2 separate regions of the Homo sapiens genome follow, and region 2 is linked to region 1. The links come from fine-mapping of genetic effects on gene expression. Tissue or cell type: whole blood. Region 1 holds a variant in brackets; the other region holds the start of a gene. All regions are shown on one strand. Distances are from middle to middle.

Region 1 (8,104 bases):
TTTTAGTAGAGACAGGGTTTCTGCATGTTGGCCAGGCTGGTCTCGAACTCCTGACCTCAGGTGATCCACCCGCCTCGGCCTCCCAAAGTGCTGGGACTACAGGCGCGGGCCACCGCGCCAAGCCCTTCTGGTATTTCTTTATGGTAATCAACATCTATTGAGCACTTTCTTCCAAGGAATGTGCCGATATATGTAATGTTCTTTTCCATCAGTTATCTCATTTAACCCTCACAACAACCCTATAAGGTTAAGTACTGTTATCACACCCCATTTTACAGAAGCAGAAACTGAAGCCCAGAGGGGTGAAGTAACTTGCCCAAGCTCAGTTAGTAAGTTAAGGCGGCTCTCTCCAAAGCGAGTCTTCTTAACACGGAGGCAGACACAAGACAGCGGGGACTCTTCAGGCGTTCCGGGCTGAGAGTTTGGGCGCCTGCGTTTTATTGCAGGCACTACCTGACTTGGATCGGTGGCTTCCCTTCTCGGTGTAATGGACAAATCGGACTCCGTCCCTTCCTAAAGCCCGGTGTGGAAGACCTCAGCACTAATGCCTGCCCCACCCTCTCTGCTCTCTCCCCAGGACCGCCGGGAGAGCCTGCCCACCTCCCCACCCTGGACGCCGGGCGCGTCCCGGCCCCCCAGCAGCCTAGACGGCTGGGTGAGCCCGGGCCCGTGGGAGCCAGGTCGCGGGAGCAGCATGAGCAGCCCCCCGCCGCTGCCGCCGCCACCGCCCATGTCTCCCTCGTGGAGCGAGCGCTCGGTGTCCCCGCTGCGACCTGAGACCGAGGCGCGGCCCCCCAGCCGCCAGCTGCAGGCGCTTCTGGCGCGAAACATCATCAATGCGGCCCGGCGCAAGAGCGCCTCCCCGCGGTCGGCGGGCGCCGAGAACCCGCGGCCCTTCTCCCCGCCGAGGGCGCCACCGCCCCCGCCCCCGCCCCCGCCCCCGCCCCCGCGCATGCGCTCGCCACAGCCCGCCCGCCCCGGCTCGGCTGCTGTGCCGGGGGCAGCCTTCGCGCCCATCCCGCGGAGCCCGTTGCCCGCCGGTCCTTCGTCCTGCACCAGTCCCCGGAGCCCGCTGCCCGCGCCTCCCAGGCCCTTCCTCTACCGCCGCTCGCCCACGGACTCCGACGTGTCCCTCGACTCCGAGGACTCCGGGGCTAAGTCTCCAGGCATCCTGGGCTACAATATCTGTCCCCGCGGGTGGAATGGCAGCCTTCGGCTCAAGCGTGGCAGCCTCCCCGCCGAGGCCTCCTGCACCACCTAGAGCCCCACCCCCGACCCCACCCCGGGAGGGCAGAGCCAGAAGAAGGCTCATTAGACCTGGGGGACCCAAAGGGTCTGGCCTCTTTGGGCAGCCCCAGAGATGAGGGGTCAGCAGAGGAGAGCTCTGGGGTTGGGGATGGGTTAGGGACGCAAGCTTGAGTTCTAGCCCTTGCTCTCATTCAGCTGTTGTGTGACCCTGGGTAAGACCCTTCCTTGTTTGACCCTCAGCTTTCCCATCTGTTTAATGGTGGCTTTGGCCAAGGCAATCCACAAACGTCAAAATTCCCCTTCCCATCAGTACACACACCGATGCACACACACTCTCTCTTTCTCTCTCTCTCTCTCTCACACACACACACACACACACACACACACACACACACACACACACTAGTTAGTGCCTTGGATGAGGCGGGGCAGTGTGTATATGGACCCCTGGACTTGCTACCTTCAGGGTTCCATACTCGTCCCTCCCCTCCTGGCTCTGCTGTCTGGAGTCTGGCAAGCGGGGTGTGTTCAGAAGGTCCTAGGCCTGTGTCGCATGTCCAGGCACTGGCCTGACCATCCGGCTCCCTGGCACCAAGTCCCAGGCAGGAGCAGCTGTTTTCCATCCCTTCCCAGACAAGCTCTATTTTTATCACAATGACCTTTAGAGAGGTCTCCCAGGCCAGCTCAAGGTGTCCCACTATCCCCTCTGGAGGGAAGAGGCAGGAAAATTCTCCCCGGGTCCCTGTCATGCTACTTTCTCCATCCCAGTTCAGACTGTCCAGGACATCTTATCTGCAGCCATAAGAGAATTATAAGGCAGTGATTTCCCTTAGGCCCAGGACTTGGGCCTCCAGCTCATCTGTTCCTTCTGGGCCCATTCATGGCAGGTTCTGGGCTCAAAGCTGAACTGGGGAGAGAAGAGATACAGAGCTACCATGTGACTTTACCTGATTGCCCTCAGTTTGGGGTTGCTTATTGGGAAAGAGAGAGACAAAGAGTTACTTGTTACGGGAAATATGAAAAGCATGGCCAGGATGCATAGAGGAGATTCTAGCAGGGGACAGGATTGGCTCAGATGACCCCTGAGGGCTCTTCCAGTCTTGAAATGCATTCCATGATATTAGGAAGTCGGGGGTGGGTGGTGGTGGTGGGCTAGTTGGGCTTGAATTTAGGGGCCGATGAGCTTGGGTACGTGAGCAGGGTGTTAAGTTAGGGTCTGCCTGTATTTCTGGTCCCCTTGGAAATGTCCCCTTCTTCAGTGTCAGACCTCAGTCCCAGTGTCCATATCGTGCCCAGAAAAGTAGACATTATCCTGCCCCATCCCTTCCCCAGTGCACTCTGACCTAGCTAGTGCCTGGTGCCCAGTGACCTGGGGGAGCCTGGCTGCAGGCCCTCACTGGTTCCCTAAACCTTGGTGGCTGTGATTCAGGTCCCCAGGGGGGACTCAGGGAGGAATATGGCTGAGTTCTGTAGTTTCCAGAGTTGGCTGGTAGAGCCTTCTAGAGGTTCAGAATATTAGCTTCAGGATCAGCTGGGGGTATGGAATTGGCTGAGGATCAAACGTATGTAGGTGAAAGGATACCAGGATGTTGCTAAAGGTGAGGGACAGTTTGGGTTTGGGACTTACCGGGGTGATGTTAGATCTGGAACCCCCAAGTGAGGCTGGAGGGAGTTAAGGTCAGTATGGAAGATAGGGTTGGGACAGGGTGCTTTGGAATGAAAGAGTGACCTTAGAGGGCTCCTTGGGCCTCAGGAATGCTCCTGCTGCTGTGAAGATGAGAAGGTGCTCTTACTCAGTTAATGATGAGTGACTATATTTACCAAAGCCCCTACCTGCTGCTGGGTCCCTTGTAGCACAGGAGACTGGGGCTAAGGGCCCCTCCCAGGGAAGGGACACCATCAGGCCTCTGGCTGAGGCAGTAGCATAGAGGATCCATTTCTACCTGCATTTCCCAGAGGACTAGCAGGAGGCAGCCTTGAGAAACCGGCAGTTCCCAAGCCAGCGCCTGGCTGTTCTCTCATTGTCACTGCCCTCTCCCCAACCTCTCCTCTAACCCACTAGAGATTGCCTGTGTCCTGCCTCTTGCCTCTTGTAGAATGCAGCTCTGGCCCTCAATAAATGCTTCCTGCATTCTTCTGCCTCCTGTGTCATTTTCAGCTGTGTCTGATGTCCTTCCCTTCTCCCCAAGCATGGAGCAGTCCATGGGACTCTGGGTGGCTGGGAATATTTGAGACATATGGGATGGGAGCTTGGGAAGAAGCAGCCATGGGGAGAGATGGGAACAACGGACAACTTGAGGCCATAGAAGTACCTGGACTGCAGTCCTGGTCCTGTCATGGACGAGCGGGGTGACCCTGGGTGAGCCCACTCCTTCTCTAGGCCTCAGCTTCCCCATCCGTATAATGGGGAGAGTGGGTCTAGGTAATGTCTCAGGGTGGTATTGTCCAGGCCCTGACCACAGAGCACTATCACCAGAGTGGGCAGGGCCAAGCTGGGTCAGGGCTCTGTGCTCTGAGGCTGTTTCCTCATGGCAGGTGGGGGTGCCAGGGCAGGAAAGGCGCCACTGTAAGAGGTCCCGTCTGAGCCAGGCAGCCCCAGTGAGGCAAGGACTCGGGCCATGAGGCATCCTCTCCTGGCAGGAGTGTCCTTTGGCCAGAGAAGGGGATTGTGATCCTGCTCCCAGGTGAGGCTAAGCTTGCCCTGGGAACACACCTCACTCTTCCTCTCTAGAAGCTCAGGCCCACCGAGGGCCAGGAAGCTAAGGTCAGGGTGGTGGACAGCAGAATCTAGGCTTCTGATTTGAGAGGTGTCAGAAATACACCCCAGGATAGTCTGCCAGCACACAGACACCGGTGGTCCCCACCCTGCACCCAGCCCATCCTTGCTAGGCCCACCCTTCCCCAGGAGTGTGTGCCTTGGACCCAATCTTTATCTTCGGCTGGGGCCTCACTGCAGCACAGTGTCCCATTGCCTACTGG[T/G]GATCTCATCCCAGTCCCCCGACACCTCAAAGTTCATCCAAAACTGACCTCAGTGTCTGCCCCCACCCCTCCTGCTCCTCCCCTTCCAGTCACCCAAGCATGAAACAGGGGAGTGGGACTCCCTTTCCTCACCTTCCACATCCAGTTCCTCACCAAGACCCAAGGGTTCTTCAAATAACCCTCAACTCCCTCTCCTCTCCATCTCCTTGTCACTGCCCTGATCCAGCCACCCCTGGTGACAGTCAGGTCCTCCTGCCTCCAGTCTGGCCCCCTCCAACCCATTTCCCACATGGCAGCAAAGATATCTTTGGAAAATGCCAATCCGATCACTCCATTTCACCACTTTAATCTTGTCAGCAACCCTTTATAAACACAGTTTCCTTTTGAAAGCCTGCTGGGATCTGGCCGCTGCCCCCACTGTCTGGGCTAATCTCTCAGCACTGCCCCCAGCTCCGGCTCTACTTGCCAACCCCCTACCCATCTTTGTAGGTGACATGTCCACTGCCTGCCATGCCCCTTCTCTGCCCAGTGAACTCCCACTCATCCTTCAAGGCCCAACTCCAGTGTGTCCTCCTCTGGGAAGCCTTCTCACCCCCCACCCCAGGCTGAGCTGGTAACTCCCTCCCCTGGGCTCTCCCAGAGCCTTCCCCAAAGCTTGTTTACCCGTCTGAATCTGACCTGGCTGAGCTCCTTGAAGACAGAGCCCTGCCTTATTTATTTTCAGTCCTTAGAGAGAGGCTCAGGGAATGTGAGAAGGTAGAGGGAGGGAGGGAGGGAGGGAGGAGGGGAGAAAAGAAGGCAGGCAGGAAGGAGGCAGAAGAAGAAAGGCAGGAGAGAAGAAAGGAAGGAAGAAAAGGATAAGTCAAGCAAAGATATTGAGGAGCAATTCATTCATCCATCTATCTATCCATCCATTCCTTCCTTCGACAAATATCTGCTGAGTTCCTATCAAGCACCATTCTTGGCACTAAGGATATAACAGTTAACAAGCGGAAGCTACCAGCAGCTGACCCTCAACATTTCCAGGTGACTTTGGTGTGTGCATATGTGAGTGTGTGTGTACACGTGGGTGCAAGCCCTCTGTCTGCACAGGCCTGTTGCCAGGGCACCTGTCTTCCCTAGGGTCTGGTGCTTTTAGCCTCTGGCTCCAGCTCCTATTGCAGCCCGAAATAAGGCTGTGACCCATGGCAAGGCAGGAATGATTCTCATCAGCTGAAGCCAGAGCTGGCTGCAGGGGACACCCTGCTCGCTGCCTACTGACTGCTGACCGCTGACTGCCTACAGGGACGCCACGCAACTCTCAGCTTCCCGACAGAGGTGTTAATCTTGAGGGTCTAAGATTCCCTCCTGCCTATTGTGGTCCCATCCTCTCAGGTACCAGCATCCTAGGGGAGCTTGGGGAACTCAGGGGAGTGGGCAGAGGAGGTGAGCCAATCCCCAGAGCTCCTTCCCCCGGAGAGGAAGGGCCCTGCAGTGGATCTAGGGAGTTTGGGGCCCCATGCAAGCCTCGATCCTGGTTTGGGAGGAGAGGAACTCTAAGCTCTAGGTTACCCTGCATTAAATGGGGAGGGTGTGGCTAGGATTAAAGGTGGGGAATAGGTAATGGCTCTGCTCAGGACTTTGGGATTTTTAGGCAGTAGAGGGAAGCAGCTTCTCTGTAAAATGAGAGACCCTTCCCAGCATCTGTGAATTTCTGTAAAGGGAGTGTTTATCAAGAAACAGATCTGTGGACTGTGGAATCCTAAACGGTTGTGATCGAGGCATTCTCAATCATCCCATGACCCTCACCCCAAATGCATGTAGACACACTCATGTTTACGTATAGTTTTAGGGGGTTTGTGAACACCCTAAAGCCCATCCATGGATCTCTGTGATTTAGCCTAACCCCCTACTGTTACAGATGGGGGAACTGAGGTGCAGAGCTGGAAAGCTACTTGTTCGCAGTTACAGAGAAAGCCAGGGACACCCACTAGACTCCAGTTGCACAATGCAGTGCCCACTGACTCCCAGGGCCCCTTGTCGGTGTTGGGGATACAGATGAAGGCAGATTGTTTTCTAAAGGAAGGAGTATAGGAAAACCTGGAGGCAAAGGAGAAGGGTACCCAGGTGGGTGGTCAGTCGAGGAGCTCAAGGGCTCTGCCTCTTCTCCAGAGGGCAAGTTAAGGTACCTGGGCAAGTTAAGGGCTCTGGACCTCATTTTATTTGCAAATCTCTTCCAAGATTCTTTGAAAGTGCCATGAGATACAAATAGGGGGATGGAACAGGAGGAAGAGAAGGGACGAGGGAGAAGAGAACACCACGGAAGTTAGCCCAGTAGCGGGGAGATGGGGAGGACGGGGGATGGTTCTCTCTGCTTGGTTGGACCAGCCTGTGCCCTCAAGCGTCAGGGCCAAGTGCCAAGGATGAAAGGGGCTCACCAGCCTTGCAGACCCCAGTGTAACCCCAACCTAGTCCATCCTCCCCCTTCCCCTAACTTAAACCTCCAACTTCTTTCAGCCTTGGACTAGGACTCTCCTGGGTCAACCGATGACAGTAGTGCCTGAGACCTTTGCCTGCCCCACCCGGATGCCCCTGGCACCTACTCTCCCTCTGATCAGGATGCCAGAGCTGGGAAAAGGCCCTAGAAACCACCCCTGAAGAGACAGTGCTTCCCTAGCAACATGAAAATAGATTCGTGCAAACTTGAGCACCTCCCTCTCGTTCCCTGGGCCTCAGTCTCCTCTGCACGGAGACCCTGAAGTCCCTTCCAGCTCAGACATCCCTTGCTTGTGATTTGGGGCTGGCCTAAAGCTGTTCAGGACTGGGGCAGGGTGAACCAGAGACTGGAAGGAGGTCTGGGGAGAAATGGAGGCAGCCTGGTCCATTTATGGGGGTCTCTCCTCCACAGGATGATCCCCAAGGAGCAGAAGGGGCCAGTGATGGCTGCCATGGGGGACCTCACTGAACCAGGTAAGGTGGTTCTAGCCTCATGCCTTCCTCAGACTCCATCATTTCCTTGCTCCCAGGCTGCACTCACTCTGGCCTGCTGGCCCCAGGCCTGGGCAGACAGGTGTGAGCTCCAGGCCAGCTCTGAGGGAGTGCCTGTAGAATTTGCTGCCTAGGCTGGGAAGCTTCCCTGAGGCACTGGGAGGGGTCTTGCCCATCTGTCCACAGACCCAGGAGCTGAGGCTGAGTGTCCCAGGCTGGGCCTTGGCTCTAAAATGACCCTGGCCCTGGCTTCATCTAAGGCCTCACCTCAGCCCCAAATTAAGCTCTGAAGACTCTGGTCCCAACTCCAGCCCTACCTGTGGCTGCAAGCTCTGCACACACTTGCCTTTGCCTATTACTCCTGTGGGTCTCACCGAGGCCTCTGGGTGGCCCAGGATGGCTGGGCCCCATGGCTAAGAGAGGGGAGTGGAGAGAGTGGAGTAGGGTGGGAAGACAGGGGAGTCGAGAGAGTGGAGCAGGGTGGGAAGAGCAGGCTGCCCATTTGAATACAAAACTTTCTACTTAAAGCTGATTCATCAAATGAGTAAATCATTTTTATCATTTCATTAAAAAAGTTTAAATTCATTTTTATCAATTTTAGAAGACCTCTTGAGGAACTCTTGATACAATTTTGGAATCTGTTTATTTGGTCTACTTTAGAGGATTTCAGGTATTTTAAAAATTAATTTAGGGGCTGGACACAGAGGCTGATGCCTTTAATCCCAGCACTTTGGGAGGCTGAGGTGGAAGAATTGCTTGAGCCCAGGAGTTTGAGACCAGCCGGGGCAACATGGTGAGACTCCATCTCTACAAAAAAAAAAAATTAGCCAGGCATGGTGGCACATGCCTGTGGTCCCAGCTACTCAGGAGGCTGAGGCAAGAGGATCGTTTGAGCCTAGGAGTTGGAGGC
Region 2 (8,104 bases), 41 kb after region 1:
GTCCGGGCCAGTTTGAGCAGCATGTCACTGGTAGATGTGGCTTTCCCCAGCATGCCAACTGGCCGTGTTCCATCAGAGTTAGAAATCTAAGTGGGGATGACAAATTCAAAAGATAAATTATACAGACTGTGTCAATTCATTAGGATTTTTATCCAAAAAGTGGCAGCATACCTCTCTCTCCATATTCTGTGTATAGTACTCTTTGTTGACATCTGACTTTGGCATGTCATCTTTAAAAGACAATCCTGCGTCACGAACCTGGATGGGCAGGCCTGGTACAAAAAAAGAGGAAAAAGACCTCAGATGTATTTTAAAACATATCCATACTAACCATGCACACAGAATACATCATCTTTCCCTTCTCCTCTTTCCTATTTAGTACCAGAGACTTTACTATGTTTTTATTCAAACTCTTTAGCACCATCAGGTTACTTCTGCTACACAGCATGCTAAGAAATTGTCCAAATTCCTGAACTGTCAGGAAATTTGATGAAATTAATGCTTTAGAAAAAATCTTTTAGGCTGGGTGTGGTGGCTCATGCCTGTAATCCTAGCACTTTGCAAGGCTGGAGCTGACAGATAGCTTGAGTCCAGGAGTTCGAGACCAGCCTGGTCAACGTGGTGAAACCCCATTTCTACAAAAAATACAAAAATTAGCTGGGTGTGGTGGTATGCACCTGTAGTCCTAGCTACCCAGGAGGCTGAGGTGGATCACCTGAGCTTGGAAAGGTTAAGGCTGCAGTGAGCCATGACCATGCCACTGCACTCCAGCCTGGGCAACAGAGTGACACCCTGTCTCAAAAACAAAAAACAAAAAAATTATAAAAGAAAATTTTTAGATGAACAAACTGTGCCCATGGTCATATTCAACCTGTAAATTAGCTCCTAGTTTTTATTACAACATGATTTATTTAAAGTAAATGTAAAAGTGGTTTCTTTCTAGGTTAGTCTTACAGATCCTCTGGATAGTCACAGTCATCTAAGGGTCACTGTACTCCAGGACCAGACGCCTCCTTAACAAACATATAAATAATATTACATAAAATGTGGCCAGGACTCTGACTAGAAGAGTAACTCTAATGAACTTAACATACATAAACTCATATATTTTTCCCTTTCCTTTAATAGTAAAAACTCTTGTTGAAAAATTATCTTTCTGAAAAACAGTCACCTATGGTTAAAAAAAAAATTACTCCCAAAAGCAGTTACTCTGAAACAGTAGCAATATATCAGTTCTAACAACACAATTGAAATAAAAGTCTAAAGCACAATTAGGCTGGCTATAGTGGCTCTGGGAGGCCAAGGTGGGAGGACTGCTTGAGGCCAGAAGCTCAAAACCAGCCTGGGCAAAATAGTGACACACACACACACGTGCACTGGGTGTGGTGGTATACCAGGAGGCAGAGGCAAGAGGATCCCTTGAGCCCAGGAGTTCGAAGTTGCAGTGAGCTGTGATCACACCACTGTACTCTAGCCTGGGTGTCAGAGTGAGACCCTAACTCAAAAAATAAAATAAAATAAAGCACAATTACCCTGTGAGCTTCTGATTGGGATGGTGGAAAAAAGCTCTGGATCAAGAAAGAAGCCTAAGGCAAATAAATTATCTATCATAGGATCAACGCCTTTTACCTCACTTGGGCTACAGAGATGAAGGTTTAGGCCACTTTTGATTAATTCCCAACTTTTCCTTAAGTTCCTACTATTGTTCAGGACTCTAGAGTGGCCTAATTATGGTTCTTTTCCTGGGAAAAGCAGACCACGGCAGACATTCCAAAGTGAAATCAGAACCAGAGCTAGGGTGCGAAGTGGGAGACAAAAGACTGACTTGTAGTTTTAGGCACCTGCACACTTTCAGATTTATTGGACAGGTCAAACATACCATACTCTAGGTCTAAGAGGCAGGTCTGACAGACATTCTTCAATTTACTGCAGGTTTGGCACACTTCAGTCTTCTTGAAACGCATGCGGACTCCAGGGCACCAGCGAAACACTGTGAATGGCCTGGCACAGATCTGGAACACAAAGCAAGAGCCATAGAATGTCAATGGTCCTGATCTGGGCAATCTGGAGATCTGATAACAACGGGGCATTCAAAAAAGGATCCCTGAATGTAGGATTTAGAAGAGACCTTAGCAATCATCTAGTTGATTTGATGTTTCAATACAATTTTCAGCATCCTTCTCCAGCAAAAATTCAGAGTACAGAAATGAAATAGCCAAAGGGTCAAAGTTCTTCCCATCCTAGAGCTAAGCACCAATAATAATCTGAACCTTAATCTTTTTTAGGGGGAGTGGGGAGTGTCATGTAATTTTTTGAGAAGCTTCTGACAAGAATGACCTTCCTCCTCAGCTAAAATGCTCGAGTGGACAGTCATACACCACCTGGTGTACAAACTCCTCCAGTGCCCATCCACTGACACCGTAAGAATCTCTACATTAGAGGGTTCATTTTCTTACCTCCCACATAAACAGTTGCCAGCCAATGAATATATCAGTAATACATAAAAAGTTGTATAGCACTGATTTTTACTGGAAGACCTCAAAACTTAGTAAGCTGAAGGCTAATTTGGTAGAGAAAAGAAAAATGAAACAGAAATCATTACTCTTTAACAGACATACTTACTTTGCATTCCTTCCCATACTTTTCTTTGGTCTATAATAGAAAAAAAATAGAAAAGAACTGGAGTTACAGAAAGAAAAAAGCCAGATGTCTACTCTTTCCTTAAACATAACCCAAGAAATGTGTCTGGAAATCCCTGGCATCCTAGAGAGAGAAAAACAGCAACAACAAAACCCAAAACCCAACCTTTTTTGGGAAGAGGGTAGGGAACATACTATAACAACATATTATAAGTGATAACATCTCAAGAGTATATGGATCTGGGCTGGGTGGCAGTGGCTCACGCCTGTAATCCCAACACTTTGAGAGGCCAAGGTGGAAGGATTGCTTGAGCCCAGGAGTTCCAGACTAGCCTGGGCAACATAGCGAGATGCTGTCTCTACAGAAAAAAGAAATAGAGTATATGCATCTAATGCTAGGTAAGTGAGTGTCTTTCCACAGCCACAACTCTTAGGTTCATTTTTGGCTCCCAAGTTCACTCCCAAGAACTAACATTCCTAATGCTTTCCACAATCCCTAAATCAGAGAGGATACAGCTGTGGCCCGCCCACTTTACAAAGTTTAGTCAAAAGGTAGCTACTGTAGACTTGTCCTGTGCCAATGCCCGGAATATAGTAAATGTTCTGTTTAAACAGAACTATTCAAACATCTTGAACCATTCAAACATCGTGAACATACTAACATATCAACACCTCTACGACTACACAATAATACAGCCCTAACCTTATTATTGTTAACTGGTTCTAATTTTACCCTAGTTTGTAACAAAGGGGGAATGCTTACTTTAAAGAGATAAAGTACACTGGCCAAAAGGCATTTGACCAGGATTCAGGAAACCTAGTTTCTAGTTCTGGTTCTCCTCCTATCATGCTGACATTCCTAGAGCCAGAATATGTGAACTTAAATCCCAGCTCCATTCCTTACTATTGTATGAAAAGACACAAACGCTCTCACCTTCTGGTCAACAGACCTATTTCCTAGGTAAATGCTCAACAAATACTAGCTATCGTTATTACCCCTACATTACAGGAGTGTTACCGGATTCGTAAGAGAATACACATGACAGTTCTTTGCAAGTCGTCCAGCACTTCGCGTTAGTAAAAGAGCATCATTTTTTCTGCTTGTCTAAGAGAAACACTTCACAGTGTGCAAGTACCACAACATCGACAGGACATGAATAACTCGTTTCACACGCGATCACTCACCATTCGGATATATGGGTTTTCTCCAAGACATGTCTGGCACAGAATGGGGAAGTCCTGGTGAAAATGGGAAATCTGGTTGAGGACCACCCTCCGAAGACCCTGACACCTCAGTGACACTTGGGGTGGCGAGGGGGCGGGAAGCGAGGGTGGGGAACTAGGCACGGCAGGAACCCGAAGTCCATCACGACCCGATCGCGGGAGGGGGCGCTGTCTGCACTTCCGGCAGGCGGCGGGAGAAAAGAAAACCAGCTCTAATAGGCTGGAGGGGGCAGGGATGGAAAGGGTGCTGGTCCCGGGACCCTGGCTAAGCCCCCTCCCTTCAAGCCCGCAGGAGGATCGCCCTCCGCCCTCCTGCTCCGGCCAAGCTAGGCCGCCGCGCTGGCTCCTCCCCGGTATTCCTTCGGCCGCGCCGCAGGCCCTGTCCTGCCAGCTTGCAAGGTGCGCGGCTTCGCCTCCTCCTTCCATCCTCCTCCGGCAGGCACACTCACCGCATCCTCCCAGTTCTGCCTGTTGTAGGTGTTGGAACCCAGAGAGGTCGCCATCTTGAGAGCGTCCGGAGGTAGCTGTAGCTTCCGAATTGGGAGAGAGGACCGCCACAATCCCGTCAAGCCCCGAGGCTAGCGCCGCGCCGGTCGGCGTCTTATTTACGCGTCTAGGGCTTCTTCCGGGGCGGGGCCTTTGCGTCATGACGTCGCCCGCTCTTGGAATTTCTAAGCTTAACAATTGGGGTCCTGGTATAATGCACCTGGATGCTTCCTTCGAGTTTTTGCCTGCTTGGAATGAAGGGCCACACGTACAGTTGATTCATTTAACAATTGGGCGAAAGAATAAAGGAAGACGTAATGCATCAGAGGCTGGGGTTAAAATAGCGTTCGCTACCACTGAGGCGCTTATTATGCCAAACTCTGGGCGAACGTCTTGCGGTTCCAGTGTCTTATTTATTCGCATAACCTCTCTGTAGGGCTCTCTGTAGGGCTGCCAGATTCTGATTCTGTCTCTCTCTCTCTCTCTCTCTCTCTCTCTCTCTCTCTGTCACTCACACACACACATGCACACACACACACGCACGAATTACAGAACGTCTAAAGTTGAATTTCAGATTAACGGCGAATCGCTTTTTAATTATAAATATATATGGTACCTACTCGTCCTAAAGTAGGATTCGTGGTTGACCTGAAATTCACATCACTTAACCAATCGTCCTGTATTTTATCTGGTAACTCTACCCTGTAGGCAAGTATGATGATCCCTCTTTTATAGAAAAGAAAACAGGTTTAGAGAGATTAACCTAATCTCTCCTGATATAGCTCCTGGTTGTGGAGCTAAAAAGTGGTGAAGCCACAAATTCATTAGTACTGTTTCATTTCCAGCTTCTGAAATGACAAGGGTCTTACGAATCAACATATGCATTATTTGATTTTTGGAATAACTCATAACCACTCTGCCAATATTTTATGAGTTTCAAGCCATTCTGGTACCACTTTCATACTTACCGTGTCATCAAGCTACCTAACACATTTATTTAAATCACCTCATTAAAAAAAAAAGTTGATTTAAAGTATAATTTACATAAAGTTTTATCCTTTTTAGTTTTGAATTTTGTACATACATTCACTTACAGTCAAATATGGAATTGTCTGTCATCCCCAAAGTTCCCTTGTTTCTGTAGTTAGTCCACTTATCCCATACTCAAACCATGGCAATCACTAATTTGTGTTCTGTCCCTAGTTTTGCCTTTTCCAGAATGTCACATAAGTGGAATCCTATATATCCTTTTGGATCTGATATTTTTTCACTTAGTATTTTGTAGTTGAGATTCATCCATATTATTACATGTATCAATAATTTCTTCCTTTGTATTACTGAGTAGAATTCCATTGTATGGATATATCATACAATTCACTTGCCAGTTGCTGGATATTTGGGTTGTTCCCAGATTTTAGTGAATATAAATAAAACCATTATAAACATTCACATACAGATCGTTGTATGGACATTGGTTTTCATTTTGCTTGTGTAAATGCCTTAGAGTGAGATTATTTGATCATATGGTAAGTATATCTTTTCCTTTATAAGAAAGTCCTTGGGTTTATCTGAGCTTCTTGGATCTGTGATTTGTTGTCTTTTATTATATTTGGAAAATTCTCAAGTATCATCTCTTCAGACTGTCTTCTGCCTGGTTTCTACATCTGTGACTCCAATTTCACATGCCTTGTGAGGAGTGCAAGGTCAGAAATAACAGAGTCCACGTACATTTGTGTTTTTCCACAATGCCAGACTTTTACTGATGCTATTTCAATCACAAAAGCCACGAACTACATGGAGTTTCCAAGAAAGCAATTCTCCTTAGTACTTCCCACTCACTCAGCACTCAGAGTCTTGGACACACAGGCTCAAGGCACTCCACAGGTCAATCAATATTGCAAATCATGCATAATGGTATACTTAATCAACATATATATTATAGAGTGAACATTCCACAAACAAAATAACATTTAACATTAAGAGAAAAGAGATAGGACCCTTTTCTCCTTTAAGTCTGGAGCCCTCAGAATCATCTCCTTTCCTTCCTTTTTCCCTCTTTCCTCCCCCAATTTATTTTTTAATCTTTGTGGGACATGACTTCTAGGAATGAGCCTTCCTAGCAACATGGAACATGACTTCCTAGGAATGAGCCTTCCTAGTAACGTGAGACCTGAATTTCCTGGAATAAACCATCCTAGCGACAAGAAACCAGCTCAAAAAAGGAGGAAAAAGCGAACTGAGGCCAGGAACACATATTCCTTTTAAAATGCTTTCTCCAAAAGATGTTAAAGAAAAAAAGGGGGAAATGTGAAAGGAAATTAAATCTTGGGACCCCAGACTCATTAAGCCAAAGGGAAAAGTCAAGCTGGGAAGTGGGTCACACAAACCTGCCTCCCGCTTTTGGTTCCTAAATAAGATGGCTACAAGATGGAAAGCTACATGCCTCCCCCATATTTTGCCCACAAGGAAATTCCTAGTGAGGAATTTTACTTTCCTAGAAAGGAAAAAAGAAAAGAGATGAAAAAATATATATAGGGACTAGGCCAGATTTATAGCAACAAAAGGAAAGCAAACCTGGAAGCTGGGTCAAGCTTTATTATATTACTGCCTCCTCAATTAAAGCAATTCTCTGGGCAATCATTACCTTAGCCCTTTCGGTTGCATATTGACTTATTTGCAAACACGTACTATAACAACATTGTAAGCAGAAACAGGACAGAACATAAATTATTCCTTCTATTATAAGCAATAGCTTCTGCCACTAAATTCCCCAGGATCCAAACCAACCACTCAAGCAATGGATTAGTGAGGGTTTTGGATCTGACAGTTGCTTATCTGGGTTTTCATACTGGTCATAATTCAGTTTATGTTCTTTGATTCATCTGGAATATACACACAACATTCAGTTTTTACGGTGGCACAGGTTCCCCTTGTGCTGCCATGAGTATATCTAAAGCCACATAGTTTTGCAACACAGCTTTCCTCATAAGCATGACCTCATTGCTTAGCAAAGAGGTACTCATGCAGCTACCATTTAGGGCCTTTGGGTGTAATTCGTTATGGCCTCTATATGCCATATAACATCTTCGATACCTATCTGTGGTACAAAGATTGAAGCTAAGTGATCATAGCACTGGAATACCAAACATGTCCAATGAGATTGTAAATGAAAAAGGTTTGCTGGTTTAATGGAAGGGTCTGAATTACTGGGCAACATATGGGGGAGGCATGTAGCTTTTCATCTTATAGCCATCTTATTTAGGAACCAAAAGCAGGAGGCAGGTTTGTGTGACCCAGTTCCCAGCTCGACTTTTCCCTTTGGCTTAATGAGTTTGGGGTCCCAAGATTTAATTTCCTTTCACAATATATATAATCCATATTTTCCTTTTCTTTTTTTTCGAGATGGGGGTCTCACTTTGTCACCCAGGCATGATCATAGCTCACTGTTACCTGGAATTCTTGGGTTCAAGGGATCCTCCAGCCTTAGCCTCCCAAGTAGCTGTGACTATAGAAGCAGGCCACGGTGCCCAGCTAATTTTTAACTTTTTTGTAGAGACAGGGTCTCACCATGTTGCCCAAGCTGGTCTCGGAACTCCTGGGCTCAAGTGATTCTCCAGCCTTGGCCTCCCAAAGTGCTGGGATTACAAGTGTGAGCCATGGCACCTGGCTCCATGTTTTCCACCAGATTTTTTAACATTGTAGGGGCCAACAGAAAAGTTCCCCTTTGCCCTCTTAAGATTCACTGAAAATTAACT

Evidence for each region. PIP is the estimated chance that this variant, and not a neighbour inherited with it, causes the effect.
Region 2: RBM22 starts here. The variant in region 1 is fine-mapped to the expression of RBM22 in whole blood (TOPMed, PIP above 0.99).

The regions. Positions count from the first base shown.
Region 1 is chr5:150,655,827-150,663,930 of GRCh38, forward strand. SYNPO (synaptopodin) reads left to right here. Exons shown (of 3, transcript NM_007286.6): 3 at 578-3,381. The coding sequence ends at 1,261. MYOZ3 (myozenin 3) reads left to right here and starts at 5,425. Exons shown (of 7, transcript NM_001122853.3): 1 at 5,425-5,601; 2 at 7,115-7,176. The coding sequence starts at 7,116. RefSeq lists silencers at 556-775, 916-975. The variant T/G (reference allele first, on the strand shown) is at 4,228.
Region 2 is chr5:150,696,620-150,704,723 of GRCh38, forward strand. RBM22 (RNA binding motif protein 22) reads right to left here and starts at 4,443. Exons shown (of 11, transcript NM_018047.3): 1 at 4,313-4,443; 2 at 3,825-3,878; 3 at 2,623-2,652; 4 at 1,880-2,012; 5 at 172-272; 6 at 1-86. The coding sequence starts at 4,366. RefSeq lists enhancers at 3,685-4,461, 4,462-5,238.